Regions from separate parts of the Homo sapiens genome. Here all the other regions are linked to region 1. Evidence: fine-mapped expression QTL. A gene starts in region 1. Each other region holds a variant in brackets. All regions are shown on one strand. Distances are between the middles of the regions. Region 1 holds the start of SH3YL1 (SH3 and SYLF domain containing 1). Region 2 overlaps SH3YL1 (SH3 and SYLF domain containing 1). Region 3 overlaps LOC105373351 (a long non-coding RNA gene). Region 4 has its middle 89 kb from the start of FAM110C.

Evidence for each region.
Region 2: its variant is fine-mapped to the expression of SH3YL1 in whole blood (TOPMed, PIP 0.99).
Region 3: its variant is fine-mapped to the expression of SH3YL1 in tibial artery (GTEx, PIP 0.95).
Region 4: its variant is fine-mapped to the expression of SH3YL1 in tibial nerve (GTEx, PIP 0.96).

Annotation. Positions count from the first base shown.
Region 1 is chr2:259,783-267,892 of GRCh38, reverse strand. SH3YL1 (SH3 and SYLF domain containing 1) reads left to right here and starts at 3,861. Exons shown (of 10, transcript NM_015677.4): 1 at 3,861-3,909. The coding sequence starts at 3,909. ACP1 (acid phosphatase 1) reads right to left here and starts at 2,946. Exons shown (of 6, transcript NM_004300.4): 1 at 2,886-2,946. The coding sequence starts at 2,928. RefSeq lists an enhancer at 2,836-2,885 and silencers at 3,236-3,315, 3,386-3,965.
Region 2 is chr2:213,953-222,062 of GRCh38, reverse strand. SH3YL1 (SH3 and SYLF domain containing 1) reads left to right here. Exons shown (of 10, transcript NM_015677.4): 10 at 3,062-3,919. The coding sequence ends at 3,252. Among named protein-coding and RNA genes, the nearest start is that of SH3YL1, 46 kb to the left of the region's middle. The variant G/T (reference allele first, on the strand shown) is at 4,305.
Region 3 is chr2:386,327-394,436 of GRCh38, reverse strand. It overlaps LOC105373351 (a long non-coding RNA gene), which reads right to left. Exons shown (of 3, transcript XR_922703.3): 3 at 7,160-7,346. Among named protein-coding and RNA genes, the nearest start is that of LINC01865, 74 kb to the right of the region's middle. RefSeq lists an enhancer at 99-798. The variant ACG/G (reference allele first, on the strand shown) is at 4,688.
Region 4 is chr2:131,946-140,055 of GRCh38, reverse strand. No RefSeq gene overlaps it. Among named protein-coding and RNA genes, the nearest start is that of FAM110C, 89 kb to the right of the region's middle. The variant C/A (reference allele first, on the strand shown) is at 4,470.

The sequences.
Region 1 (8,110 bases):
GAAGATCCACTAGAACACAGCCAGGTTCATCATATGGATGGCTACTTTGTGCTACACCCTTTCTGTATGTCATGTGAAGCCAATCTAAAATAATTATAATCTGGTTCTTTAAACAAAGAGTTTGCAGACTCCTGCCCTAAAGGACCAGTGTATATAAGGAATTAACTTCTCCCTATACATCTACAATGGAAGCACTGAGAAAACAGGCGCTCAAATTATCTGCTAAATTTTCAGGTATAGATGAGGAATCCTGACTGAGAAAAACTATCTGGCCACTAGGCCCAGCCACTGCAGCTTCCCTGCGGTTCATGACCATGGCCAGTATTCTCCCTTCAAAACTTTTACCTGCTTTCCTCTGGGTTCAGGATGCTTCTCCAAAATATCCTAGGCTTGCTTCCTCACCTCCTTCAAGTCTTTACTCAAAAGTCATCTATCAGGTGGGGCCTTCCCTGACCATCCCACTCAAAACTGCACTCCACTCCCATTCCCCTTTTCTGCTCTATTTTTCTTAATCTTCACATCAACCGATTGAGCACATCAATTAATACTTGCTGGTGACTGAGAGAACGTGAGCTCCAGAGAGGCTGGGATTTTTGTCTGTTGTGTTCACCACACCACTTAGAGGAATGCATGCCATATAGTAGATGCTCAACAACAACAAAAAATCACTGAATTGTATTGAAATACAATAGTCCCCTCTTTTCCAAGGTTTTGCTTTCCATGGTTACCCCATGGTCAGCTTCAGTTGGAAAATATTAAATGAAGAATTCCACAAATAATTCCTAAGTTTTAAATTGTGCACTGTTCTGAGTAGCAGGATAAATTCTCATGCCATCCCATTCCGTCCTGCCCCAGAAGTGAAACACGTCTTTGTCCAGCATATCCATGCTGTCTATCCACCTATTGCCCTCTAGCTTATCAGATCCATTGTGATGCTATCACAGTGCCTGAGTTCGAGTCACCCTTAGTTTACTAATAATGGCCCGAAATCATAAGAGTAGTGAAGCTAGCAATTCAGATACGGCAAAGAGAAGCCATAAGCACTACCCTTAAGTAAAAAGGTGAAAGTTTTTGACTTCTTATGGAAAGAAAAAAAAAACTTATACCGAGGTTACTAAGATCTACAGTACGAACAAATCTTCTATCCATGAAAATGTAAACAAGGAAAAAGAAATTCCTGATCGTCTGCTGTCTTGCCTCAAACTGCAAAAGTTGCGACCACAGTTTTAAATGCTTAGTTAAGGTGGCAACGGTATTACATTTGTGGGTGTAAGAAACGAGCAGACACATGTTCCAATTGACAGCAATTGGGTTTGGTACTACCCACAGTTTCGGGATCCACTGGGGAGTCTTGGAATGTATCCCCTACAGCTAAAGTGGGACTACTGTATATGCAAGGATACACTTCCCCATTAACAGCAACCATGATGCATTATGCCAGCATAATCGACAATACCAACCAAAACTATACAAGGGAATGGAATATTATTTAGTAACCATCCTTAACCAAACTACTGTTTAATAAACTTATTGATTTCATCATTCAGCCTTCAATGAGTCTTAAAAATCAAATGATGCCCACTACCAATGTGAAACAAGGTAAGCCTTCTAATTCGTCTTTCACAGAAGTTAACTTCTACAAAACCTAGTCAGCGTTTATCATATATTGTCCTAAAGCTGAAAACAAAATGAAAAATAAGCCACAGTTATTGCCATCGACAAAATTAAACTCAGCTGGGATTTCAACAGACTATCAAATAATTATAGTAAAATTTGTGTAATAAAAGATGTCGATAAGGAATCACACCTTTTCTGTATTACATCTTTTACTATATTACACAAATTATAGTAAAATTTGTGTAATAAAAGATGTCGATAAGGAAGCAACTCATGATCTGGGAAAGCAAAGGAGGAAATATTTAGGTTTGACTTTATAAAATAAAAAGGCTTTCCAGGCAAAATGCATAATGGGCACCCAGCGATGAAGGCTCAGTAAGCATGTGAAGTGCTACCGAACAACGAAAGGTTCTGGAAGGCAGTGTCCCGAGGGTGTGAGCAGGAAAAGGTACAGGAGATAAAGTGAGGAGTCTGTAAAAATAAACAGAAACTGCAGGAAATGCAAACTCACAGAAGGTTTTAAGTAACCGGACTACTGACAATTTAGGCCTTCCTCTCAGGGTGGAGGCACCGAGGAATATAACCTTGTAGTGCTACACCAAAGGAAGATCCCTGAAGACCAAACGGAAAATAAATTATGTTTGAAGTAAGGCAAGCTAAGTGTTGAAATTCTAGGAGTGAAAATAATTTAAGCTGGAAAGTTCCTGAAAAGCCATTAATAAAATACACTTTCATTTTTCATGGGCCAAAGTTATATAGGGACCTCCAGGTCTCCTTTGCTTGGCTTTTACAATCAAGAAACCCGAAACCGTAAAACTTCATCTCCCTTTAACTCAGATCCCTATCTAAGCATGGGCTAAGGAAACTAGCAAACAAAACAATGTTGTCATAGGACTCAGGAGGCCCCTAAGAGACCACATCAGTCCGACAACCTCCAGGCCTACCTGGGCCCATTGGAGGGGAACGAGAGGGATTCTAGTAGTCGCAAAGAAAGTACCTTGGCTTGTAGGGGCTGTGGCTGCAGATGCCAAGAGCCCCGGATATATGGCAGGCGCGAGGGGACCCAGGTTTAGCGGGCAGGCTGGGCGGGTGCACGGGGCGGATGGGGAACAGGGGCGCTGCGGCACACTCCTAGAACACCCTAGGCCTCCCAGTCCCTGGCCTCCTCCCCCTCATGGTTCCTAGGCCGGCGGCACAACCTACAGCGCACAAGCCCGATCCAACTCTCCAGAGGACGTCAGAACATGAGTAAGTCGGCGCCCTCTTACCCAGACACACAAACAGCACGGACTTGGTAGCCTGTTCCGCCATCTTCCCGCGCGCAGAGGCGCCGAGACACCGCGGCGTTCCGCACGCCGACGCGGCGCAGGCGCACTGCCACCCTCTTGCCCCGCGCGCCTGCGCAGTCCCGCACCAACGCCAACAGGGCAGCGCGTGTGAGAGCCACGCCTGCGCAATCGGCTCCAGTGCGCCTGCGGAGGCGGTCCTATGACGGTAGTAGGACGGGCGGGGAGGGTCCGCGGGTCACCTGCAGGGACTGGGCCGCCGTTCACCTGCAGGGGCGGGGCTGCAGGTTGTCCGGAGGAGGAGGAGCTGCGGGGGTGGGGTCACCTGGAGGGAGTAGGGCCGCGGAAGGCGAGGGGGTGTGTGTGTGTGGTGGCGGGGGTTGGCGGGGGGGAGTCACCTGGAGGGGGCGGGGCTGCGGGTCGCTTGGAGGGGAAGGAGCCGCGGGAGGTAAAGGTTACCTATAGGGGACGGGGCCGCAGGAGAGGGGTACCTGGAGGAGGAAGGGCCGCGGGTCACCTGCAGGGCGGGCTCAGGCCTCGCGGCTCCGCGGGCCGCCCACCTGGGTTGGGGCACAGCGCGAGTCTCGCGCACGTGGCGGGCTGTGGTGCCTGTCGTTCGAGTTCGCATAGAGGGGCTGGGCGGGTCACGCGGGGAACCTGCCTTGAGCCCCGCGGGGTCCACGCCGGACCAGGGCGGCCTTGGGCCTGGGCGCTCCCTGAGACCCCCACCCCCAACACCGTGCTTGGAGCCGCCGCGGGGCTCTGGGCTTTTCGATCTTGAGGACGGGGCGGTTCCGAAGTCCCTGAGGGCGAAGGCCTGAGCGCGGCCCGGCGGGCGCGTGGTTTTTGTCCCGCGAAACGTACACGGCGGGTGTTTTGCGCCGCCTCCTTCGTCACCTGCCGCAGGTACGCCCTCGCTGGGGCCTCCTTGTCCGCGGGGCGGGGCAGCGCGCCTTCCTCTTCCTGGGCAGCCTCGGGACGGGGCGCCGCGGCCGGGCGGGCAGCAGTGAGTACCCGGGGACCCACCTGTCCGGCAGCACCCTCCCCTCTCAAGAGCTGGGCGGTGGTGGGAGGAGGAGGACGGGAAAACCGGCGATGCCTCTGGGGTTTCTAGGTCGCGCGTCTGTTAACCGCAAACCGCCCAAAGTTAAGATAGAGCAGCTTCCAGGACTTTCTTGACCACAGCGATTTTGATTGAAGTTTAGCCACCGTCTTTTCCATTTTTAGAAAAGCTATTCCGAAGTTTGGAATGATGACGATGGTCGTGTTATTTTTAACTTCCTGATATTTGAACGGCGAGGTGTCAGCGACCATCCTTCCGTTCCACAGAAGCGTCTCTGAAGTTTGGGTCGAATGCGCGCGCTTGGAATGTGCGTGGAACCCGCGGCAGGCGCGGGGAGGAGGCCTTGGCTAGGGCGCCGGCGAGGTTCGAGTTTGCCAGCCCCCCAACCTGGAAGAGAAGGGCCAGCCCCTCACACCCGGAAGGGAAGGGCCGGTCCCCCCAACACCTGGCGCCGGGGTCGCGGGGCCACAGGGCGAGCGCGGGGTCGCGGCGAGCACGGGTCCTCTCTGATCGCTGGGCCTTGGCGCTGGCTGCTGAGTTTTTCCTTCTTTAAGGAAGTGTGGAACTGGTCTCAATCGGTTGACCACCTTAAGGAAATAGGATTTACACTGTGGACAGAGATGTGTCCTTTACACTTCATTTGAACCAATATGCCCATGCTCCTGTGGAGGCTGAGTTGGAAAGTGACACGAAGCTGCCCCCCCGCAAGAGAGCAGGTGCTCGGTTTCTCTTCTGCTTACAGGAGATGCATGTCCTGATTTCTTGTTCTCCTAGGTGTTTTTATTGAGATGTAGGGAATATCTGAATTCATAACGACTTAGAAAATCTGTACACACAGTTGAGAGAACAGGTCTCGAGGCTAAGGTGCTGTTTACTCCCGTGGGCTGGCCTGTTATTAAAATACTTGTGCAGCGACTGATGTTTACAAATTACTATGTTGGAGGTTAAAATGATCAAAGTGATAACCTCCATCCTGTCTATCATGTTTGAGGAGAATTGGTTATTTGGTTCACTAATGTTCTGTTTAAAGAAAATTTCTGTAAAACTAGTAAATGTTACCCCTCATCTTTTGTAAGTTAAAAAAAAGTTTAAAATAATGTTTGCTCATCAAAAGTGATTTGATACTTTTGTTCTGTTTAGGAAAACTTTATTCTCAAGAGATTTCTCATTCCGCAGAAATAAGGATCTGGCATGTCAACACAAACATAGGAAGTTGAGGCAGTCAAAGGGAAATAACTGCTACCCTGACTCTGCTGAGAGCCTCACAAGTCCCTGTGCACGCCAGCTTGTTTGCCAGTGAGTGGCGTCATGATAAGACAAAATTCTCTGCTCTGAGACCTAAGCACATGAAGTTTTTAAAAAAATTTTCTCTGAGAAGATCCCATTTTTTACTCTAAAAGATCAGACCAGTGTGGCATGTGTGGAACTGCTCTGTACCAAGATCACACTCTTCAGTTGGAGAAGAGGAAGGGCAGGAATAAATAAAGGGCTTTCCTGTCTCCCGAGGGAGCAGAGAAAGCTTTCGCTGTCCTCTTCCTTCCCCAGCCACAGCCTGGGGTTGGGGGACTGGAAACAAGCTCAGGCTAGCACTTGATGTTCAGACGGTAGTCTGAAAGTTTGACTAGGGAGTTAATGATCTGACCAGAGAGACAGGTTTTTATTTTGAGAACTGACAAGCTTTGTGTCCTTAAAACAAAGGAAGTAGTTAAACCAAGGCCCCAGAAAGGTAAGAATTGACTTAAGAAACAAAGGCCATAGTTGTCAAGCAGTGGAGTTCAAAATGCAGTTTTGTTAATAAAAGTAGCTTAAAGCAACATTTGAAAGCCTCTCTAAAGATTAGATACATACACTTTCTTTTGGCTAAGATTTCTTTAGTTTATTCTAAATATACCTTTAGCAGCATTCAAGTTCCTTTGATCTTAGATGGAATTTTATCAGTTTAATGAGTTAACCTCCATTTCACATAAAGTATAAGGTTTAATAATTTGATTAATATGTAATCAGTAAGAACTTGGAAAACCAAATTTAGTAAGCTTGCTTTCCTGTAAGTATTCCTTTCATAATTAGAGTCCATTGAAGAAAATAATATAAGGGAAGCAAAAGTTTGGGAATCTGAACTCTGGTAAGGAAAGTGGTGGAGAGGGGCCCTTGGGTCTTCTTGCTTTCATTCCTGACCCTCCGTGTACAACTAGATTGGAAACCGTAGTCAGCTTTGTCACCTCAGGTGGCAATTTACTCCGAGTAGGATTCTCATGTCCCTGTTTGTCCCCAGTGACTCTAGCATTGAGTTTATAGAACTGCGATCAATACCTAAAATTATTTCCAGATCTTAAGCTGATTTATGCTTTTGAGGTTTCCAAAGTAAAAATTGTCTTTCCGGTATTTTATAAGACCTTCTAATTTAAAAAAAAAATGTGTTACTATGAAAATTTAAAACATTTTAACTTTTGTTTTAAAGAAAACTTTATTTGAAAGTTTCTTAGCTTGAGGTTTGGCAGCCACTCTTTTTTTAGAAAAAACTTAAATATTTATAGAGATTTTGCCTGATTCAAGGGACTTAAGACGTTTATGAGAGTGCAGATGCTAACCATGATGTGAGGTTTAAGAGGCTTCATTAGTAATGACCTGTGTCTTCATCAGTATGATAGAATGGGACATCAGCACTCTGATCAGGTCATGCTCTATATGCCTTATGGTACAGCAGAGGAAAAATGGGTGAGCCATCATTTGATGCTGAGGATGGGATTTGAGGCTTATGTCTAAATTTTTATTTGCATATTCTTTTTGTTCTGACAGAGAAATTCACTGCATGTAACTATGACCACGCATGATTTTATCAGAAGTTGATTAGAATCTGTAACATTTTCTGTAGTTCAGCTGACACACTGAAGATGTCCTCACTGTGACCAGCCTTGTCAACAGCTGGATCACAGTGACATAAGCTGTGTCTAGGATGAGTCTTGCGGTCTGCAGCCGTGTGAGGCTGCATCTGATTCCCAAGTCCAATGGCTCTCTTCCCGTGTTTACAGATCAGGCCATGACCTTTCCCTACAGCAGGATGTTTGCAAGATTAACTCTCAACTGAGGAATTTGCTTATTTGCTCTAATACTGCTTGGTTGAGAGAGTTCAAAGTAGAAAGTCTTCTGAGGGGATAAGATTCATGTATTATTTACAGTGCTTCAGTTGCATGTATCAGAAAATCTAGTCTAAATTGCTTTAACAGAAAAAGATGTTGCTGGTCCATTTGACGAAGAAGTCCAGAGCGGCTTGTGACTTCAGTCTGGCTTTGCAGAGCCCAGGTGCTCTCTCCACCTTCTGCCAGGTTCCCCTATGAAGGCTTTGCTCTCAGACTCTCCCCTTGTGGAGACAAAAATCCCACAGCAAGTGGAAACAGAAGTGCCTTGGAAAAAGTTATTCTGGCAGCTCCTATACAAGTCCCCCATCAGATGCTGGTATTGGACCAGCTTTGGTTATAAAGCCCTGCTGTGGCACCAAAAGGAATGTCGTCCTGATACAGCAGCCTCGGGTCACCCAATCCACTCCAGATACTATGGCTGCAGCATCAATGTAAGCAGACAAGTTGTGCTGCCTCTGAAATAAAGTAGATGAAATATTCAGCAGCAGAAAGAACAAGTTTCCACTCCAGTGAACTAATTCAAATGTATCCAGCATCTAGATATATGTATAAATGTAATTAAAACATATTGAGCATCTAGAGCATCTCTCCCAAGATAATTACCACCTGATAGTAATGGCTATAAAAGCTAAAAGTGGAATCAGTCTACATGTTTCGCAATAGGAATCAATTGAAGCATACATCAAAATGCAGACAGTAGTATTGGTGAGTATTAATGTTATAGATGCTTTTTATCCTTCATATTTTCATATCTGTACTTTTTCCTGTATTTTACAATGTATTTGTACGTTGTACAAATAATTGCTGATCATGTAAAAATATAGAAATATAGAAATTTTGTTGCCATACTTGGGTCTTTTCCACTATGAAATTGAAAAAAAATTCTATAATTCCTGGTTCTTTTATAATTTGATATTTGACACTCTAAATCTTCAATGAATTTGGAGTTTATCTTTCTGTAACACAAAGCTGTGAATGAATTTTTGTTTTTCTCCCCAAATGAACAT
Region 2 (8,110 bases), 46 kb after region 1:
TAACTCAGTGGGGTTTGCTTCCCGGTAACCAGGAAGGTTTTTCTTCATGGAAGGAATCATTACTTGACTCACCTTTTATTGGTGAATTCTTTGTGGGCATTAAACTTCTCCTTGTGAAAATTATCTCTAATATTTACATTAAAGAGGAACTTTAAGTCATTTGGAGTTTTTCAAAGAAAAAAACTAACAGGGCACAGCACTAACTGGCTTGTGGATTGTTATCTGAGAAAGCAGATAGGCTCCTGGATCTGCTGGCCTCACTCTTGTGATTTTCATGTGGATGGAGTTTCTCCAACAACAGCTCAACTCCTGACTCTCTTGTACTCCTCCCCAGGAGGCAGAGGCATTTGTGGTCAATTGGGTGAGGAATTGGGCACAAGGAACAGTCAACACACATCTTAGCCTCAGTAAAGGAGAAATGTGAGATCCCGGCCCCCTCAGACCTTCAGTGGTGGCCTTCCCTTCAGCTGCACCTGAAAACCACCCACGTTGCTCCTCTACCCTCCTCTCTCACTCTGCTTTATCCTCATTTCATTTGGAATCTGCAATTCAGAGAAAATTAGACCAACACCTGATTGTGAGGGCAGGGACCAAACCAGGTGTGTGATCTCGCCTTCTTTCTCTTTCTTAGTTCATAATATATTTATTTCTCTAATTATTCCTCATAAAATATATTCCTGAAACTGCTTAGAACCAATTCAGTTATCAGGGATTACCCAGAACCATAGCATCAGATGCTGTTATTTGTACAGTCTGGAAACCCAGTGAGGCAGGTCACCACATTAATCCCCCTTGAACATTTGCCTCATAAAAGTAAAATGCTCCGATAAATGTCAGTTTGGTCTGTTGAGCACAATTTCATATTTATGAGGTTGTTGAGGGTCTTGGATGACCTGGAGACAAGCTTCATTCCTGACCTTGGACAAATTACTTGTTATCTCTGAAGCTCAGTTTCAAATTCTGTGATGTGGGATAGGAGTAGCTGGCTCATTGCAGTGGGCGGTGTAAGAGGAGCACATGTGTGTGCCTGAGCAGTTCGCGGTGGCTGCTCTTCCCAGATGCACATCGATTGCTGTTATCATTGTTGTCGTCCTTATTATGCATTTTTGATTTTATAAATGAGACTGCAAGTGTATAAATGCATGGTAGCTAAGATGGCTGTGGCTCCCAGAACATTCCCTGATGTTCACAAGCACTCTTTTAATTCACTTCTTCCTATTATCTAACGTGTCTGGGAGACAAGAGGGAGGAGAACAGAGTTCCTGGAGGTTCTTCACTGATTTGTTCTGGTTAATTAAGATTCAGCTTTATATGTGGATATCCTAAATATAATCATGAATAAGAGATTTCCAGGATGGATTTTTCTTTAGCATTAGCTTGCATCCTGATCTGATGACAGGGAAGCACGGCGTGAGCGCCTGCCCGGTACCCCACCCAGGGCAGAGCACAGCTCCTTTCACAGTGCATGGCAGCGACTGCTCATTAACGTGTAGAATTTAATCGTGTACTTAGAACGTTTAACTTAACTTCTGTTGTTTCTAGACTATGTCAAAATTTTATTTTGGTGACATTCTTTTATCCTTATTCCTTAAAATTGTTAACTAAAAGTAAATATAGGACAAAATAAAATATACAGAAATTCTTTTTATTATAGAAAAAAGTAGTTATACCAGTATTATCTCTAGTGTAATTATTATTAGGATTATTTCTTTAGAACTCAACTAAATGGCACATACTTTAAAGAAAGAATGGTAGCACCATCTTGTGAGAGCTACAAATTCAGTGTTTTAGTCAGAGTAGTTTAAAGTGTTGACTATTTTTATTTCTTATGGGTGGACCAAATTCACTTTATTATTATTATTATTATTATTATTGTATTATGGGTTCAAATAGGACCTGGCTCTAGAGTCTGGTTATTGATGTTTTCTGTATGTCTGTACATCTAGTTGCCTAATTTATGCACAGAATTATATGAAGCATAGAAGCATCAGACTCCATGTAGCTGAGTGCTCAAAAACTGTTTAATTATATTTTTATGATGTTATGTGGTTTATAATATTTAATGTCCTTTATTCATGTTAACTGCTCAGTTCTCAAAGTATTTTCTTCCTTCTGCAATACATGGATATACACATTGCATTGAAGTACTTGTGAAACATGTAGAAATGCTCCTACCTGTGCTAATTCCAACTTATCTCTGATATTGAGAGGATGGATCAATTAAGCACAGAAATGTAAACAGCCACAAAGCCCAGGGAGAAGAAATGTCTGCTGAGGAAACAGCAAAATATAACTGGGCTGCAATCTTCAAGCCCAGTGAGTAAAGAGCCAGGTTTTAAAGTTGAATCTCCTAGGGTTTGATATAAGCTCACATATCTGCCTTTCTCCAGCATCTGCCATCCATGAAACTGTCACACTATCTTGGCCCCTTCCAGCTGCTGTAACAAAACACCATAGTCTGGGCAGCTCATAGACAATGGAATTTTATTTCTCACGCTTCTGGAGGCTGGATTCCAAGATCAAGGTTCCAGGAGACTCAGTGTCTGGCAAGGTCTCGGTTTCTGCCTCAGAGATGGTGCCATCTGGCTGTGTCCTCACAAGGAGGAAGGTGCAAGAAGCTCCCCTCAGGCTCTGTCTGTAAGACACTGATCCCATTCATGAGGGGGAAACGTAATGACCTAATCAGCCCCCAGAGACCCCACTTCTAACACCATCACCTTGGGGTTGAGGATTTCAACACTTGAATCTCAGGGGGACACAGACATTCAGACCACAGCAATGACTATATTAAAATAGAAAAAATGTAAGTTGTATTATCTCATAGATTATTCAAAATTTAGACGATTGTAACCAGAAGCATGTGCTAAATCCTTAGGTATAGAATGTGCAGAGAAAAATAAGTTTAATAATGTGATGAAAATTACACAGACTGTTGTGGTTTCTGCCAGCCTCCAAGACATCAGCATGCCAAGCCCTAAGTGGTTAATTTTTATCTTACCAGCAGATACCCCCAATTTCTCCCTTAAAGAACATAAACGTGAATACTTTTTTCTTGTTTCAGGCAATTTGAATCAACCCATAGAAGTGACAGCGCTGTATTCATTTGAAGGACAGCAGCCTGGGGATTTGAATTTTCAAGCTGGAGACAGAATCACAGTTATATCAAAAACAGATTCACATTTTGATTGGTGGGAAGGAAAACTTCGAGGTCAAACTGGCATTTTTCCAGCCAACTACGTAACCATGAATTAAAGCGTATACTATTTTCTTCTTTGAGAATTACAAAAAAATTATTTCTACACTGACAGGATTTACTAGTTAAGCAATGTTTAATATAAATTTTAAAAAACTTCTGTTCTACAAAATTTCCATTCCGTATGTAAAAGATTTTGTTTTTCTATATAAAAAGAGCTGACTGACATATCTTTAAATACTTTGTACTAACTTTATCACACTTACTGTGTCATAGAATATCATACAGTTTATACGCTCATAGTTCTCTTGTGAACACTTCAAACATCGCTAAGCATTTGATCTGGCCATGTATATGGTAGCTGTGTTTTAATTTGAGAATCTTGAGGGTAGAGCCACAAATTTCAATTCTTACATTTCCATTTGCAAAGTGACTAGAGAAAAAGAAATCAGCTTAAATGAGGTATTAAGTAATGTTTAGAGTCGTAGGTATTAACTAGAATATAAATCCTTAGAAATTGTCTTTATACCTTCAAAAATTATACTATGCATTTATCATAGAAATGTGATTACAAAGAAGTCTGACTACCATGTCTTTAAACATATGGCATCTCTCAACTTTTCTTCCTTATGGGGCTACATTTGTTCATTTCCAGCAGTAGCATAAACTTACGGTGACATGGTAGACTTGTCTCTAAATAAAATTTTTAAATGTTTACTAAGTTAATATTTCAATTTTGTTTTTCTTATTTTTTTTGTAAGGTAGGCAGAAGTCCTATGTCTCATATGCAGGGTGAAATCCACCTCCGTTCTGGGCTGCCTGAGCTCCTTCCTGAACTCTAGACTCCCCTCTCCAGCTATGCACTTTACAGCTCCGTTTGGACAAGGAACAACACCTCAGCCTTCACGGGCTCAAATCCAAGCTCTTCTTTCTCCTCACTTAGCCTGCCCCTCCCACAGTGTTCCTCTTCAGTAAATGGAAATTCCATCCTTGGATTTCCTTGGTCCTCAGGGTGACTTCAGAGCCAACTTTCGTTCTTCTATCTCATGCCCTCTATTAAATCCACCAGAGATTCTGTTGCCTTTCAGACACTCGCTGACCCAATATTTGC[G/T]CTCCCCCATGCCCACCCTGAAGCGAGCTGCCCGCTCAGCCCCAGCTCCCGCGTAGACTCCTTGCTTCAGCCCTGGCTTCACCCAGCAAACCCTCCTGAGAGGAGCAGGTGCACATTGCACTGTTTGTCCTGCTATTTGCTCCTCACTGCCTTACGTCATACACACACCCGTGCATTTGCCTTTTTATTGATTATACCTTCTTAAGACATGGAGAAGGAGAATGAAGACACATGTTATCTTCACCCAGAGAGAAGCAAAACAGTTATTTCCTACTTTCTAAGCCCTTTCCAATCACTGCTGTCTCAAAGGGAATCATCACCCTGAGTCTGCTGTTTTTAATTCCATAATTTTCTTTACATTTTTACTACGTATGTTTGTGTCCTTAAGCACTATATGGTATTTCCTTCCATGCATTTAAACTTACAAAATTTAAAGTTTTAAACTTATAGAAGATACAATAAATTCACTCATTTACAATGGACTTATTGTAAAGAAACTATGCTCTATACGTTCAACGAATTAAAAGGTGGAGAACTTCAGCAGAAATTTGACACTATAAGAGGGAACTAAATGAAAAACATGAGACTGAAAAGTAAAATAAACTTAAGAAGATAATAAATGGATTTAACAATCATTTAGACACAGCAGAAAAAAGAATCATTGACCTGAAAGCAGATCAGAAACATACATCCAGACTGAGAGTTGACTGAAAATACTAGAAAAACCAAAAGAAACTGGGATAAGGCAAGAAGGTACAGAAAATGAGTAGCGAAGGTTCTGGTCAAAAAGTGGAGAGAAAAATCAGGCAGATGCTCTACATGAAGATAGAATGCCAGAGCATATTCCAAAACTTTAAAAAGACGTTGAGCTACAGATTTCAGAATTACTATGAACAAACAGAATAAACACATGAACAAGCAGAATACTATGAACAAGCAGAATAAACACAAGGAGAGTCACATATGGGCACATCATTATAAAACTGCCAAAAACTGCAAAGATAAATCTAAGAAGTAGATGAGAGGTTGATTAATGGGTAAAAATGCACACTTAGAAAAAAATAAGACCAGGTGTCTTATAGATCATTAGGGTGACTACAGTTGACATTAATGGATTATACATTTCAAAACAGCTAGAAGAGAATAATTTGAATGTTCTTAGTATAAAGGAAAGATAAATATTCAAGGTGTTGAATATCCCAGTGACCCTGATTTGATTATACAAATGCATCAGATTATCACATGTATATCAAAAACATGTACATCTATTAAATATCAATTTTTAAATGTAGATGAGAACTGTTATAAATCACTAAAATGATAACAATCAAAAAATGGACCAAAGATTTCATTGATTTCACCAATGAAAATATACGGATACCAAGTAAGGACAGGAAAAGATGCCCAATTATCTTTAACAATTAAGGAAAGCAAACGGGAACTGAGAGTGAGATGTTGCCACCAACCTCTAAATGGCTAAAATGAAAACAACTGACGCTATCAAGTGTGAATGAGGATATGGAGCTCTGGAAACTCCCATGCAGTGTGGCTGGAAATGCAAAATTGCATGGTTACTTTGGTGTGGCAGTTTAACTTCTAGCCCAGAGATTTCATTCCTGGGTATTTGTCCAGGAGAAATAACAATACATGTCCACATAAAGTATTATATGATGTTCATAAGAGCTTGATTCATAATGACCCCAGACTGGAAACACTCCAAATGTCCATCATCTGTTGAGTGGATGAAAAGCATCATGTTCCATCTATACCGTGGAACACTACTCAGCATAAGGAATGGATCTTGATACATCAACAACATGGTGCATCTTCAGAGCATTTTGCTTCGTGTCGGAAGTCAGACACTGAAGACATAAATCCACTTACATAAAATTGTTGAAAAGGCAAAATTATAATAATGAAAAGCAGATAAATATTTGCCAGGCGCCAGAGGTTGAAGGAAGAGCTTGACTGCCAAGGTTGACAAGGGCACATCTTATGATGTTAAATTTAATAAATCTAAAACAAATACATAATGCATGTGGCTGTCAGTGGGCCTGTTAATATTTAGCAAGCTAAAGTATATTAGACAAACAAAGAAATATTAAAAAAACAGATTAACACACCCCTCAGCATACTGTAGATCAAGCATATAAAAACATAAATATATATACTATATAAAAATAAAAGGTATCTAATGATTTGAGACTGTACCCTGAAATTAGACTGCCTATTTATATCAAGTATCCACAGAACACTCCCAAAAGTTGACCATAATGCCACAAAGAAAACTTCTTTTATGCCATGATAAGAAATAGTATAGATAACATTTCCTGGCTCTGTACTACAAATAAGAAAATCCGTACTAGCTTGAAAACTTCAAACTCTTAGTAACTCAGGGTATATATGTGTGTGTGTGTGTGTGTGTGTGTGTAGAGTGAGTTTGTGTGTATACACACACAACACACAAAAAATCCTAATCAAATAAAATAGAAATGACTATGTTGCTTAATCCTTTTCAATTAAATTCAAAAATATAAAAAGTCAGCTTCGTAATATTAAAATTGTTTCAGAGGATAGCAAAATAATTTCCAAATACTTCAATGATCTGAGCCTACTACTAATAACAAAACACATCTCAGATTAAATCTTTTAAAAAACAAAAGTCCAATCTCATTCCTAAACATTGTTACAAAAATCCTAGCAACACAGTGACGTGATAGAGACCAGGTGTAAACTCTAGGCTTGTTCAGTATTAGGACATCTATGATCACTCATCCTCTTAAATGGTCTCACAATAAAAATAAGATCATCCCCATCTATCCTGAAGAGGCATCTGACAAAATTCAAACCCCATTTTTTTTTTTTTTTTGAGATGGAGTCTTGCTCTGTGGCCCAGGCTGGAGTGCAGTGGGGCAGAGCCACGGACGTTCACAAAGATGCCGATTAAATTTTAACAACGACTCCCCAAATGTTTCTAATATCACCAAACCACTTCCTTCCACAGATGTCTTAATTTTGTTTAAATGTGGTATTTCCTAACTGCTTCCAAGAAAGTTAAAATGAGGCCACAGGGATTTTCTGACATCTCCAACAGAGGAAAGCTGTTGTTAGCAGGAGCAGCCCGGTGCCTGTTCGCAGGGGCAGCTCAGTGCAGGCCGAGCAGCCCGGTGCCTGTTGGCAGAAGCAGCCCGGTGTCTGTTGGCAGGGGCAGCCCGGTGCCTGTTGGCAGGGGCAGCCCGGTGCCTGTTGGCAGGGGCAGCCCGGTGCCTGTTGGCAGGGGCAGCCCGGTGCCTGTTGGCAGGGGCAGCCCGGTGCCTGTTGGCAGGGGCAGCCCAGCGCAGGCCGAGCAGCTGCACTATGCGCTCTCCGAAGAGCCACTGACTTTGCACAGCAAACGTCAGATACGCTGCCTGGAAATGGGGCAGTTTTAAATCCACTGCTACAGAGAGTGTGTTGGGCGGTCCACACTTCCGAAAAGTCTGAAATGTGAATCCCGGCCTTGAGTCAGTTTCCCGCTTACTTTTGGCGTGGCGTCGTGGGCGGACCACGGGATCTGGAGCGGTCAGTCCGAGGCCCGTTCGGCTCCCGCTGCGCAAACGGGGAGATTCACGCTGCCTCAACCCCAGCCTCGTCTGTAAAGCACCCACATGCTGGGATTCCCAGGGGCCTCGGGGGGAAGGAGGCCGAGCGTCCCCGCTTTGTGCGTGCTCCTAATTCTTCCCTGGGTAACACGAACGTTTCCACGCGAGCTTGATGCCCACAGGGTGCATACCAATTTCCATGAAAAGGTAACCTGGACATTTTTT
Region 3 (8,110 bases), 130 kb before region 1:
AAGCAACATTGTAAGTTCAAAAGGTGGCACAAGCCACTGAGAAAGGTTTCGAGTGTTAGGTTATATTCGCGGCAGATGTGGGGGTCTCTGGTGAGAGGAGGCCGTGGAGACCCTCAGAGCCTGACTTCACAGGACACGAGGCTCAGTGCAGGGGTCCACAGACCACAGTGAAGGCGAGAGCTGGGACTGCCAGCGAGTCCAGGAGCACAGTGGGTCTGGAGATGAGATGAGGCTGCAAATAAGGAAACTGACAAAGCCATCCAGGCTCCATGGCAACGGCACAGCTTCCGGAAACACGTTTCTTTCTGAATGAGAGGCTGCGGGAGGCAACAGGGAGGAAACCGGAGGTGGAGGCCGCCCCACGCGTCTGCCCAGCACCTCCTGGAGGGTGGATCTCCGAGCTGGGGGCCTCATCTGAAAGGGGCTGGAGTCTTTCACAGTTGGCATGGCAATGAAAAAAGGTATGAAAAGGCAGTTAACACATTTCAGGACAAGCAGATCAGAGCCAGCCCTGCAGGCATCTAGGCAGATGAGTAGGTACTTTTGGAATGTGGAGTTTGAGTGCAGGCTGCATGAGATCGCTTGGGAGCAGGCACCTTCAGCCTGCCGTGAAGTTTGACTGCCTAGTAAGCACATGCCTGCACCCTCAGCCTGTCGTGAAGTTTGAGTGTGTGGTAAGCTCGTGCCTGCACCCTCAGCCCGCCGTGAAGTTTGAGTGTGTGGTAAGCTCGTGCCTGCACCCTCAGCCCGCCGTGAAGTTTGAGTGCGTGGTAAGCACATGCCTGCACCCTCAGCCTGTCGTGAAGTTTGAGTGTGTGGTAAGCACATGCCTGCATCCTCAGCCCGCCCTGAAGTTTCAATGCGTGGTAAGCTCGTGCCTGCACCCTCAGCCCGCCGTGAAGTTTGAGTGCGTGGTAAGCACATGCCTGCACCCTCAGCCTGCCGTGAAGTTTGAGTGCCTGGTAAGCACATGCCTGCACCCTCAGCCTGCCGTGAAGTTTGAGTGCCTGGTAAGCACATGCCTGCATCCTCAGCCCGCCCTGAAGTTTCAATGCGTGGTAAGCACATGCCTGCACCCTCAGCCCACCATGAAGTTTGAATACCTGGTACGCACATGCCTGCACCCTCAGCCCCCCATGAAGTTTGAGTGTGCGGTAAGCACATGCCTGCACCCTCAGCCCACCATGAAGTTTGAATACCTGGTAAGCACGTGCCTGCACCCTCAGCCCACCGTGAAGTTTGAGTGTGTAGTAAGCACCTGCCTGCATCCTCAGCCAGTCGTGAAGTTTGAATGCCTGGTAAGCACGTGCCTGCATCCTCAGCCCGCCCTGAGGTTTGAGTGTGTGGTAAGCACCTGCCTGCACCCTCAGCCTGCCTGTGAGGTTTGAGTGTGTGGTAAGCACATGCCTGCATCCTCAGCCTGCCGTGAGGTTTGAGTGTGTGGTAAGCACATGCCTGCACCCTCACCCCGCCGTGAAGTTTGAGCACACGCTTACCACATGCCAGGTTCTATGTTAGGCTCCAGCTGCCCAAGAGTGAGCAGGGGGAAGCAGCCGCCCTCACGGGACCCAAAGTGTAGCATGAAGGTCAGTTGTGAGCTGGCGTGAATTCGGAAACCAGCTTCCGGAGCATTGAGCGAAGGTTCGCCTTGTGAGCAGCGCACGTCGTCTAGATGCTGCCCGTGGATCTGTGCATTGCGCCTGCGTGCGCCCTTTCCTCTTTGCAGTGACCTGCGTGCGCCCTTTCCTCTTTGCGGTGACCCCACCCGAGAGGCTTTCTCTTCTGTACATCCACGCTTCTCAAGCATGTACCAGTTTTTCCGGCACGTGGGAACTGCAAAGGCTCAAGTATCTTTGTTGGTTGGTTTCTTCAGAACTGAAAGCTGGACATGCTGGGGAGATTGTCTGACTCTTGCCAGTCCTGGTTCTAACTCGGGCTGTGTGGAGCTCCAGGCTCCTGGTTGGCTGTGGAGTCCAAGCCCAGGGCCTCCCACCTCCACCAGCCACAGCCCTGATGGACCCCTGTTCTGTGCTCCTCGTCCTCCCTGCTCTGGGAGGCAGGGACAGCGGAGCCACGCATGATGCCAAGAGCTTCCCTGCTGGCCTAGAGTCACAGACGCTTAGAGGTGGGACGGATAGGCCTCTCGCCTGCAGGTGGGAGACCGAGGTGGAGACAGGGCGAGCACTTGCTCGATTTCTTAACTGACTGATTCCCACCCCCCTTCGCTGTTTCTGGGGATGGTCACTGATGTTTCTTTTTTCACGGCCCATCAGCACAGTGAAGCTGAAATCCCATCCTCCCATCCGTAATCACAGCAGGAAAGGAACAAAAAAGGAATATCCTGGCATCCTGTGGCCTTTCAAAACTGGGTCTGGGTAAAATGGAAATAACTTTTTGATTTTATCTATACAATACCAGGACTTCCTGGGTGTGACAGAGAAGCGTTATGTCAATTATGTGAAAGAGAATTATCCAGGAAGATATCTAGGACTTCTATAGCAACAACTCAGGTTTCTACAGCTCCTGGGTGTCTCAAAATGCTCTCACCTGACTCATCTCCTACCACGCCCACTTTCCCACCCACCTCCCAGCTGTGTATCATCATCTCTAATTTAAAGAAAAAGTACCCCAAAGTGTGAGGGCCTTCCCTCTGCCGCACATCATCGAGAACACCAGGAACAAGCCCAGAATGTTAGACAGCATACAGCGCAGCTGGAACCATCTCTCCACCCACATCACCGAGAACCCAGGATGTTAGACGGCACACAGTGCAGCTGGAACCATCTCTCCACCCACATCACCGAGAACACCAGGAACAAGCCCAGAATGTTAGACGGCACACAGCGCAGCTGGAACCATCTCTCCACCCACATCACCGAGAACACCAGGAACAAGCCCAGAATGTTAGACGGCACACAGTGCAGCTGGAACCATCTCTCCACCCATATCACTGAGAACACCAGGAACAAGCCCAGAATGTTAGACGGTACACAGTGCAGCTGGAACCATCTCTCCATCCACATCACCGAGAACGCCAGGAACAAGCCCAGAATGTTAGACGGCACACAGTGCAGCTGGAACCATCTCTCCACCCACATCACTGAGAACACCAGGAACAAGCCCAGGATGTTAGACGGCACACCGTGCAGCTGGAACCATCTCTCCACCCACATCACTGAGAACCCAAAATGTTAGACAGCACACAGCACAGCTGGAATTATCTCTACATCTCAGGAACACCTCGGGGGTGGCCGTCGCTTACTGGAGCATTCACCTGCAAGACTCCACAGGGCCACTGAGGACTCGACTCAGTTCCACTGCTGATGAGAGTGGCGTTCTTCCGTCTGAAATCAGGCATCCATCCCTGCCCCACGACGACAAGCACGGAAGTCCTGGCAGCCCTGGCACCGGCTCTCGCCTGAAACCCTCACAGAGCCGGCTCTGGAATGCTGCTCTGTACTGCACCCTCCAGTTAATCCCATTCCCAACACATGTCCAGGAAAGATGATAAACAAAGTGAATATCCATGCAAAAGAGATCACTTAAAGGTCTATTTAAATTGTGTGCTCTTCTCTTTTATTTTCCTTCATATGTGATCTTTCCCCTAGTCATACAGAAATAGCCATTTGCTCAGGGAGATGTGATTGTCAGGGTGGAAATGCAAATTAAAGGAAGAGGCATCACTGCCGCCCTGACTGACGGAACGAGATAACTGAGTTCCCACCAAAACACGTGTAAAATCATGGCTGTAAGGAGAAAAGTAAGTGGATAAATAAGTACTTGTATGAACTCACACACACACATACACACGCATGTACATATACACATACATATGTACTATCTAAATCCCTTGAACACCCACACACACATACACACACGTGTACATATACATACGTACTGTCTAAATCCCTTAAACACACACACACAAGCACATGTACATATACATATGTACTGTCTAAATCCCTTAAACATGCACACACACACGCACGTGTACATATAGGTATGTACTGTCTAAATCCCTTAAACATGCACACACACGTGTACATATACGTATGTACTGTCTAAATCCCTTAAACATGCACACACACATACACACATGTGTACATATACGTATGTACTGTCTAAATCCCTTAAACACGCACACACACATACGCACATGTGTACATATACGTATATACTGTCTAAATCCCTTAAACACGCACACACACATACGCATGTGTGCATATACATATGTACTGTCTAAATCCCTTAAACACGCACACACATACACACATGTGTACATATACGTATGTACTGTTTAAATCCCTTACACACACATACGCATGTGTACATATACGTATGTACTGTCTAAATCCCTTAAACACGCACACACACATACGCACATGTGTACATATACGTATGTACTGTCTAAATCCTTAAACACGCACACACACATACGCACATGTGTACATATACGTATGTACTGTCTAAATCCCTTAAACACACACACGTGTACATATACATATGTACTGTCTAAAGCCCTTACACACACACACGTACATGTACATATATGTATGTACTAAATCCCTTAAACACGCACACACATATGCACGTGCACATATACGTATGTATTGTCTAAATCCCTTAAACACGCACACACACATATGCACATGTGTACATATACGTATGTAGTCTAAATCCCTTAAAC[ACG/G]CACACACACATACACACACGTGTACATATACGTATGTACTGTCTAAATCCCTTACACACACATATGCATGTGTACATATACGTATGTACTGTCTAAATCCCTTAAACACGCACACACACATACGCACATGTGTACATATACGTATGTACTGTCTAAATCCCTTAAACACGCACACACACACGCACATGTGTACATATACGTATGTACTGTCTAAATCCCTTAAACACGCACACACACGTACACACATGTGTACATATGCGTATGTACTGTCTAAATCCCTTAAACACGCACACACACATACGCACGTGTACATATACGTATGTACTGTCTAAATCCCCTAAACGCGCACACACATACGCACATGTGTACATATACGTATGTACTGTCTAAATCCCTTAAACACGCACACACACATACACACGTGTACATATACGTATGTACTGTGTAAATCCCCTAAACACGCACACACACATACGCATGTGTACATATACGTATGTACTGTCTAAATCCCTTAAACGCGCGCACACACATACGCACGTGTACATATACGTATGTACTGTCTAAATCCCCTAAACGCGCACACACATACGCACGTGTACATATACGTATGTACTGTCTAAATCCCTTAAACATGCACACACACATACGCACGTGTACATATATGTATGTACTGTGTAAATCCCCTAAACACGCACACACACATACGCATGTGTACATATACGTATGTACTGTCTAAATCCCTTAAACGCGCACACACATATGCACGTGTACATATACGTATGTACTGTCTAAATCCCTTAAACACGCGCACACACATATGCACGTGTACATACACGTATGTACTGTGTAAATCCCTTAAACACGCACACACACATACGCACGTGTACATATACGTATGTACTGTCTAAATCCCCTAAACACGCACACACACATACGCACGTGTACATATACGTATGTACTGTCTAAATCCCTTACACACACATACGCACGTGTACATATACGTATGTACTGTCTAAATCCCTTACACACACATACGCACGTGTACATATACGTATGTACTGTCTAAATCCCTTAAACACACACACACACATACGCACGTGTACATATATGTATGTACTGTCTAAATCCCTTAAACTTCTCTTGACATACCAAGAGCCAGGCCTGGAGGAGTTTTCACAAAGTCCTGGGTGGAAAACTGGGGATGTGATCAAGGAAGTGTCCTGCCCAGAAAGTCCCTGATGGAGAAAGATGGAGATGGACGTCTGGAGTGAAAGAAGGTGGGACAAGGAGCTCACAAGCCGGGTCTTTTCTTTCCTGATGCTAAGGACGGAATCTAAAGGCAGAGCATTCAGAGCAGGGCCTCGGAGCGGCTGCGGGTGCCTTGTGGGTGCCTGTCGGCCAAGCCACAGCCCCGGCTCAGACCTGCAGCCGCCTCTGAGTCAGCATTCCTAAGTAAGTCAGGGGGTTCCAGTGGAGACCACGTGCAGTGGCTGAGGAGGCCGTCTGGGGTGTCGAGGCTTTGCTCCAGAGGGTCCCCAGCCAGAGGCAGTGGCAGGAGCACAGTGTGCTCAGCCCCCAATGGTGCCCACCTGCCAGGAGCCACCAGATTTCAGAGACCAGATCCCGGCCTCCACGGCCAGCCCAGACCCCGGCCTCCACGGCCAGCCACAGACCATCCCAGGACCCCCTCTCGCCCGCAGCAGGGAAGAAGGAGCTGCAAGAGGTGGAGTATTCGCCCCTGGAAGCTGAGTCCGCCTGAAACTCAAAGAACCTGAAATCCTCGTAGTAGCTTCTGTCTCCTCCAGCTGCAGCCAGTGTGTGAGGAGGAGTCAAGCACAGAAAAGCAAAGAATACATGAGGAAGCCGACCATAAAATTATAAAAACTTGGATTCTTCTTCCTCTCAATGAAGGCTTAACACCTATGTGACAATAGGGAGTTATGCTTATAATCGAGTTATAAACATGAAAAGCAGATAGGTAGTCGCCTGTATGTTATAGAGATGACTATACAGATATGTAAGTGTAGAGAAGAAATTTAAAAATTACACTGAAATATTCGCGACGGTTGAATTATGATGTTTGTATTGTTCAAGGTGATTTCATCTTTTTTTCTATTTTGTATAGTTTTTATAATATGAAAATAACATTTCTTTGAGTCTGCATTTTCTCCTGAAAATCAGTTTCATATACATAAAGTTAATTTTGCTTTCCTCCCAGAAGTTGTCTTGCTATTTAGACTTATGATCAGCTATTTCCTCCATCTCAGACAGGGACATTCACAGAAAAATATTAAGAAATTTGACTGATTACCTTGGTGTGCTGGACAAGTCAGAAAAACCCTTTGGCTATAATAAAATACTTTGTTTTATTCAGTTGTAGGTGATAGTTGGTCTAGAATTTTTTCTTTTTAAACATATTTTGAATTTTACTGAAAACTCCTAGGAATACACAGTTAATGTTGAGTAGGGGAGCTACACAAGGATGTAAAATTTAACCAAATCATCTGATTGTGAATTCAAAAATTAAAAACTTACCATGGGTCCCATGAGGAGCCAATTCCACTCCATAGTCTGAATTTTCTAAATAGGAAACTGACAAGTCGGGTAAAGTGATTGCAGTTGTCCTGATCTTGTTGATATTAGTTTCAAAAAATCACTGTTTGGAGAAAGTGAAGGGGGGAAAAGCTGGAGTGGATGCAGAGAGCGGTGAGGGGGGCAGAAGCCCAGGACAGAGAAGGGAGCAGGGCAGAGGCGACAGGGGAGAGGGGAGAGGGAGAAGGCAGAGGGGAGAGGACAGAAGGGAGAGCGCAGAGGGCAGAGGGGAGAGGGCAGAGAGCAGAGGGCAGAGGGCAGAGGGGAGAGGGCAGAGGGGAGAGGGCAGAGGGCAGAGGGCAGAGGGGAGAGGGCAGAGGGCAGAGGGGAGAGGGGAGAGGGGAGCGGGCAGAGGGGAGAGGGGAGAGGGGAGCGGGCAGACGGGAGCGGGCAGAGGGCAGAACCTGGCTCCTGCTCTCAGGTAAGTGGTGAGCAGTGGGGCGCCTGCAGGGAGACCCCTCTTGCTGATTTGCAGGATGGAGTGAAGGCCACTCAGAGCCACCCCAGGACAGAGGACAGGAGTCTGAACCGCCCCCCATGGAAGGGGAGCCAGGGAATGGGGAGGAGTTGGGCACAGCATGGGGGACCTGGGGCCTCAAGCACAAAGCCCTCAAATCTCCTCTCATGAGGTCAGCCATGAGGAGACATGTTCTAATGATTCGTTCTTGTCAAGGTAAAGGTATTGCTGAAGAATTTAATATAAGAATAAAACTGAAGTTCAGAAAAGGGAACAGGTCCAGCTCTGAGAGCTGCTGTTCTGAATCCAGTGAGCCTTGTGTCTGTCAAAATTAGGAGACATTGCTTCTTTTTCCTATGACGACTGCACGG
Region 4 (8,110 bases), 130 kb after region 1:
ATCATAGCAAGAGGCTTAGCTTTTTCAGAATAGGAAAGGACCCGTAGTCTGAACCCCCAAACAACCCCCAAACTGGCAGAGTTTGTGTATATGTGTTAGATAGTGTGTGCTTAAGATAGGCTGACTTCAGGATAGAACCGGTTTTCATCTGCCAGCCTAAAACAAATGTCCCAAATTCCTGACTTCACTTTGATAATACTGCAATTTATTTAGAGAAGCAAAATTTTTATTAAATTGAAAGTATCTTGTTTGTAAGCACATACAGTGTTAACAGCTATTAATAAATCGCTCACATGTTGAATTAGTATGAATTAAAGGTGGGGAAAAGTTCTCTTAGTTCTCTTGTGAATGTCTAGAAAGTATAGCAGGCAAATCTGAGGATCCGTCACCACAAATGCGGAAGAAAGAAGATTCCAGGGGCACTCAAAGAAGAGCCTGGTACCTCAGTGAAAAGTACAGAAAAGACGCAGAATGCAGCCCCATATGGAACAATAGGAATCAGAGCAGCCTCAACCTCACGTATTTCTCGCAGAGCTTGTACAAATCTACGGGCAATTTCTTGCCCAGTTTTCATTCTTTTTCCCAGGTAATTTGGGAATATAAAAAGGAAAATGCGCCTCTCTTGACTATGCTCTGTTTTTCTAACTCTCTGAGTTTTTTATTCCTTGTATTTGAGCTAGAATGAGAGGATGTTGATTTACACATGTCCATAATGTTTTTGTTTTGTTTTAAGCTGTGAAAAGGGGATGATCTCCATCTGTTTGTGCTGCTATAACCAAATACCTGAACCTTGGTAATTTATAAATAGTAGGAATTTATTTCTCACAGTCCTGGAGACTGGGAGTCTGAGATCAAGGCTTGGCAAGGTCAGAACCTGGTGAAACTGCTCTCTGCTTCCAAGGTGGCACCATGACAAGCGCTGTGTCCTCAGAGGGGACGAGTGCTTCATCCTCACATGGTGGTAGGGCCAGAAGGGCAAAAAGGTGGAATGCTGTGTGAAGCTTCTTTCACAAGGGCCTTAATTCTATCGTGAGGGAGGAGCCTTATCACCTCATCACCTCCTAAAGGTCCCGCCTCTTAAAACCTCGACATCGGAAATGAAGCTTCAACACACATTTTGAAGGGGACACAAACATTCAAACCAGAGCAGGATTCAATTTCTTTTACTAACCCATATTATTTGTTCCTTGAGCCCTTCTAATTTGAGATGCTTTTATTTTATTTTAATTTTTAAAATAAATTTTATTGTGTATATTTAAGATGTAAAACATGATGCTTTAAGATACATATATATACATATATACAGTAAAATGGTTATTATAGTGAAGCAGATTAACACATCCATCATCTCACATAGTTACCCATTTTTGTTTTTGTTTTTGTTTTGTGGTAATAGCAACTAAAATCAACTCATTTATCAGGAATTCCAAATACAGCACAATTTTTTTTAACACTAGTCCTCATGTTGTACATGAGATCTCTGGACTTGTTTATCCCACACACCTGCTACTTTGTACCTTCTGACCTATATCTTCCCATCCCCCACCCTCTCCAGTCCCCCTGGTAACCCTGTTTCATTCGCTGTCTTTGTTTACCTGTTTTTTTAAAAGATTCAATATGTAAGTGAGATCATGGAATATTTTTCATTCTTTGTCTGGCTTGTTTCACTTTGCATAGTGTCCTCCAGGTTCATGCATGTTGTGGCAAATGGCAAGATCTCCTTCTTTTTAAAGGCTGAACAGCAAAAAACACAATCAACAAAATAAAATGGCAACCTACAGATTTGGAAACAAAATCCAATATTTATAAAGAACTCATACAATTCCATATTAAAAAAACAAACAACCGAATTAAAAAAATGGACAAGGGACCTACATAGCCACTTCTCCAAAGAAGACGTTAAAAGTGGCCAACAGGTATATGAAAATGTGCTCAATGTTATCAGTCACCAGGAAAATGTGAATTAAAGCCACTGTGAAATGTCTCACATCTGTAAGCATGGCTACTATCAAAAAGTCAGGAGATAATAAGTGTTGGTGAGGGTATGTAGAAAAGGGGATGCTTGTACTCTGTTAGTGGAAATGTAGATTGCCACAGCCATTATGCAAAACAGTATGGAGGCTCCTAAGGAAATTTTAAAAAGAACTACATTATGGCCTAGCAATCTCTCCTCTGGGCATATAGTCAGAGAAAGTGACCTTGTGAAAATGTCGGCAGTCTCAGTTCATTGCAGCATTATTCACAATAGTCAAGATATGGGAAAAACCTAAGTATCTATTTGATGAACAAATAGATAATGATAGTTCTTTTATTTTAGAAAGTGCTTATTTACCAACTCCTTGCCTCCTGGGAGCTCTGAAAACACTCCATCTACAGTATGGAGAATCTACTTGTTGAGAAACCTCAGAGAAGAAAGAACAGGGAGAAGGTTGTCTAGAGGTACCCAAAAGTTGGATGTTTTCCTAGGTTGACGTAAAATGATAACCGTCTGTAGAAATTGTGGAGTGTGTGCCTTCAGTGTTCACAAGAAAGATCAGGACAAGCTTAAAGTGGGAAAAGAAAGAGACACATAAATGCCTCCCACCCTCAGCTCTGAGGTTACTTTCCACAATTTTCCAATTACTTTTTGTCCAATTTCCTTAGGCAAAAATCTCTTGGAGATGACGGTAAAGCTTTAGAGTTAGCTTGTATCTCTCAACTCTTCTTGACCCTCGTTTAGCATTCATTTTTCCTCCACTGTCCTGATTTCTTACAACAGTAACATATTGACTTTCCATTACGGGGTTCCTTCTTGTCTGGTGGTGGCCCCAGATAAGGGTTTATTCCCTTTGTGAATAATTCTAACTGGGAAATCTTAAGGGCTATTTTTTTGTCTTCTTTATCTTTCTCCATATTTTCCCAAACTTGGGCTACTTCCCTCAAAACGTGAGAAATTATTCTTGCCACCCAACTACATTTTCCCTTATTTGCTCTCTTGAATTCTCTGCAACAAAGCTGCCACAGAAGTGGAGAGGATCAGGAGCCCGGACCCCCTGAGACATGCCTTGGACTTAGGAAAGGTGAACAGCTGGTGAAAACTCACGGGCCTCATGTGGCTAAGAAGCGTGGCACTGTGGCTTCTCCCAGTCCACCTTCAGTGGAGAGGCTTCAGGAACTGCCCTCGGTGGCCCCTCATGCTGAGCATTCCAGGCACAGCAAGCAGCCTGAGTTGCTGGAGCAGCAAGCAGTTATCCTCCTGGAGCCCGGCATGGCAGAGTGAAGCACGCCTTCCAGGAGAGGGACCCGCTGACAGCATTCCAGAGTTTTCAGAACATTTTACCATTAAAGCCAACAGCAAACCACACAGGGCCTTTCAGCCACATTACCAATTTTACTCAATGGTAACTCAAAACTTCTAGTGAGAGTTTGGGATTTTCCCTGGGAACCCAATTCCACTGAACCAAAGTAGTTGAAGAAACACTTTTTAGCAAATAGTCCCTTATTTGATTAAAGATGGCTACAAATACTCCAAGAAATGTGCCCAGTGGAGGGCTTAGTTGAGGGATCCCATCCTTATAACCAAATTTTTGGGAGGAAAAAAAGGGAAATCTCTACCCAGAGGAACATACCACTTTGTGTAGAATAACCTTTTTTCTTTTTAGTAGACTATTAGTCCATGCTCACATTGCTATAAAGAAATACCTGAAACTGGGTAATTTATAAAGAAGATTTTTTTTCTTTTTTTTGAAACAGTCTAGCTGTGTTGCCCAGGCTGGAGTTCAGTGGTGTGATCTCAGCATCATAGCTCACTGCAGCCTTCACTTCCCAGGTTCAAGAGATTCTCATGCCTCAGCCACTCAAATAGCTAAAGGCGTGCGCCACTACACCTGGTTAATTTTAGTGTTTTTAGTAGAGACGGGGTTTTGCCATGATGTCCAGGCTGGTCTTGAACTCCTGGCCTCAAGTGATTCGCCTGCCTCAGCCTCCCAAAGTGCTGGGATTACAGGTGTGAGCCACCACGCCCAGTCTGTAAAGAAGAGATTTAATTGGCTCACGGTTCTGCAGGCTGTACAGGAAGCACAGTGGCATCTGGGGAGGACTCAAGAAGCTTCTAGTCATGGCAGAAGGTGAAGAGGAAGCAGGCACATCTACATGGCAGAGCAGGAGGAAGGGAGGAGGGTGCTAAACACTTTTAAATAACCAGATCTCATGAGAACTCACTCACTGTACAGTACCAAGGGGATGTACTAAACCATTCATGAGAACGCCGTCCCCATGATCCGATCACCTTCCACCAGGCCCTACCTCCCACACTGGGGATTACAATTCAATGTGAGTTTTGGGTGGGGACAGAGATTCAAACCATATCAGTAGGCTTTATTTCTTAGAGCAGTTTTAGGTTCACAGCAAAATTGAGCAGAAGGTACAGAGATGTCCCATATACTCTTAGCCCCACCTGTGTGTAACACTCCCACCCCCATTATCAACAT[C/A]ACCCACTAGAGTGGTGCATTTTCTTACAATTGATGAGCCTGCATTGCCACCTCATTAATCACCTAAAGTCCATAGTTTATATTAGTGCTCATTCTTGTTACTGTGTATTCTATGTGTTTTGACACATGTACGATGACACGTTTCCACCATCATAGCATCATATGGAATAGTTTCACTGCCCTAAAAATCCTCTGCACTCGGCCTATTCATCCCCGCCTTCACCCAATTTCTAGAAACCACTGATATTTTCACAGTCTCCATAGTTTTGCATTTTCCAGAGTGTCACAGAGTTGGAATTCTACAACATGTAGCCTTTTCAGATTGGCTTCTTTCATGTAGTAGCATGTAAGTTTCCTCCATAGCTCGATAGCTCCTTCCTTTTTACTGATGAACAATATTCCATTGTCTGGATGTACCACAGTATATTTATCCATTAATCTACTGAAGGACATCTTGGTTCCATCTAAGTTTTGGTGATTATGAGTAAAAGTTTTTATTATTGGGGAAAAAAATCCCTGAATGTATGCAGTTATCCAGCAAGTAGTTACAAAGCTACTGTGAATTTTCAGCTCATTTATATGAATAAAACCTACGGTTGTTATACATCACCCTTCTTTTAGTAAACAGTCAGAAGATATTCAGTTTGCACCAATAATTCCATTGAGCTTACTTTGCAATTATTTTCCAACTAATTCTTTACTAGTACTTCCAATGAGTGATTTAGCACATACGATTAATCACACCCTTTAACATGCCTCAGCAATATTAGATTAAATTCACTTTCCCACGTTTCCTAGAAATCTTTTTTTTATGTAGAATTACTGCATCTTTACGTACTGGCTTTACACTTTTTTCTCATCCTTTCCATCTGTTTGCACTGCTTTCTGGATAATCTTTCCTCTCAACCAAAATCTTTCAGGTTACTAATCACTCTCTATATCCAATCAGTTGTGCTGTTCAGAGTTGTGTTTTTTAAATGCTATTTTTATTGAAGTATAATATACACATATGACACGCACAAATCATATTACGCTGAGTGTACAGCTCAGTGAAATATCACTAAGTGAAACATCTTTAAGTACAACCAAGATCAAGAAACAGAATATTTCCCAGTACCCAGAAACCCTATTTTTCCTCTTCACAGTTACCTCCCACACTTCCAGTTTCCTGAAGACAATACCATTCCGGTTAGAATATATTAGTGCTGCCAAGTTTTTGCACTGTGTATAAATGGAATCATAATTGTCCTTTCTTTCCTGACTGGTTTCCCTCAATCTTACTTTTGTGAGATTCAGCCACGTTGTTGTGTGTGGTAGTAGTTTACACTGGCTACTTTTATGTTGTGGTTGGGTTCCTCCAGCCCTAAGGGGGACTCCTCAGGCTCTAGCTGGAGACAACCATGGTAGAGACTTTTCCCATTGGCAAGCATGCTCACTCCTCCAGTAACTCACCCTGCAGTAGACTTTGCCCATTACAATTATAAAAAACACACCCCTAGGTGGAGGTTTTAAATGCTAATGAGACATTTCATGTGTGTACTAGCATGTACAGCCATAGAGCATGTGGAACCACCTAATACATGATTGCAAGTGACAGCCCCTCACATCCCTTCATGAATAATCATGTAAGATCCTCATAAAGAGAGTCCCCAGCACTGGCTGCTGCTGGCTCACTCCCTCTCTCCAGCAACCTGCTCTGCCTTGTCATTCAGTGTGTGCTCTCCCTTTAAATAAACCTCGCTGCTGCCGCTGCTTTCCAGTCAGGCCAGCCCACTCCCTTCTTGAACTGTCCTCTATCTTCCCTCAAGAAACTCTGCTGCTTAACCCTTGCTGTGCATCTCTTGGCTGAATTCTTTCTTCCAAGAAGGCAAGAGCCACAGACCCTGCACCCCTCCCAGTAACATTTGTACGGTATTCTACTGTGCAAATTTATAATAATTTTTCCATTCCACTGTTAATGGACATTTGAATGGTTTCTATTTTTGCTGTTTCTAATAATAGAGCCATCAGCATATGTGCTTTTCTTGTAGGTATATCTAAGAGTAGGAATCCTTGGATCACAAGATACATCCATTTTGTTTAGTTGTTCTTTCCTTACACTATATTTCTTTTAAAATCAAATGCTGTGTGCTTTTTATCTTTCAGAAATTCTTCTAATTTTTTGCTGATTACATTCTTTCTTGTCTTTTTTTTTTTTCCTTTTTTGTGACAGTGTCTCACCCTGTTGCCCAGGCTGGAGTGCACTGAGTGATCTCAGCTCACTGCATCCACCACCTCCTGAGTTCAGTGGATCCTCCCACCTAAGCCTCCTGTGCGGTTGGGACTACAGGCATACGCCACCATGCCAGGATAATTTTTAAAACTTTTTGGAGAAACAAGGTCTCACTGTATTGCCCAAGCTGGTCTCAAAGTCCTGGGCTCAAGTGATCCTCCTGCCTTAGCCTCCTAAAGTCCTGGGGTTACAGATGTGAGTCATCATGCCCAGCCATTAATTATTATCATTTTATTACATCTTTTCTATAATTTCAAGGACTTGGAAGTAGAAAGAGTTAAGAATAGGAATGTTAAATCTTCTGTTTTTATATCAAATCCAAACCACTTTAGATTTCCACCAAAATGAGAAGGCATGGAATTATTACTCTGATTGGCTCAGGAATGAGATGGAGTTTCACTCTTGTTGCCCAGGCTGGAGTGCAATGGGGCGATCTTGGCTCACTGCAACCTCTGACTCCTGGGTTCGTGTGATTCACCTGCCTCAGCCTCCTGAGTAGCTGGGATTACAGACATGTGCCACCATGCCCAGCTAATTTTGTAGTTTTAGTAGAGATGAGGTTTCTCCATGTTGGTCAGGCTGGTCTCGAACTCCTGATTTCAGGTGATCCCCTCGCCTTGGCCTCCCAAAGTGCTGGGATTACAGGCACGAGCCACCGCGCCTGGCAGATTTGGTTTTCTAATGAGCTAAAAGTCTCTCCCTGGCATCTCTCTTGAGTAAAGTCTGTTCATTGGGTTGTGAGTCTCCTTGTAGATTTCTTTACTTCCACACTGTGCTGGCTGGCACCATGGCTGGCTGTGTGAATGAAGGTGCTGCCCCCAGCTGTGTCTCTCTATCCCAAGCACGTTCCATCCACTCTCCTCAAGGCTCGCTTTTTCTCTGTAGGGTTACTGCTCCCCTTTCTGTGGGAAATCTTGCTAACCAAGATTGAAATGGACTCCTCCATTGTTCGGCACCATCAAGTTTGCCCCAAACAGCTAATAAGTAACAGTAGGATTTTCCTATTCATGTATTTTATGTTTTGTGTATTTTAGACATAAAATACATGAATAGGAAACTTGAGATTTTACAACATTATGAATATTGAAAGTTTCAACTCCCTCACTTCCTCAAAAGACTAAAGAAACTGCAACGCTTTACTGTGATAATTACAATGAGGACAAAGCATCATGGCTGTCATAATCAACTAAAAACCCCTGCTGCCGCTTTGCACTTCTCAGTGTGAGGCACAATTTCTGCTTGCTGTCCTCATCTCAGGGGTCCCTAGTCTAACAATGCCTCAATCCAGTTGACACCCATTTATCTTCCTCAACAAGATAAACATAGTGAGATGTTCAGTCCAGGCAGACTAGGTGCATTGCCCAAGGGA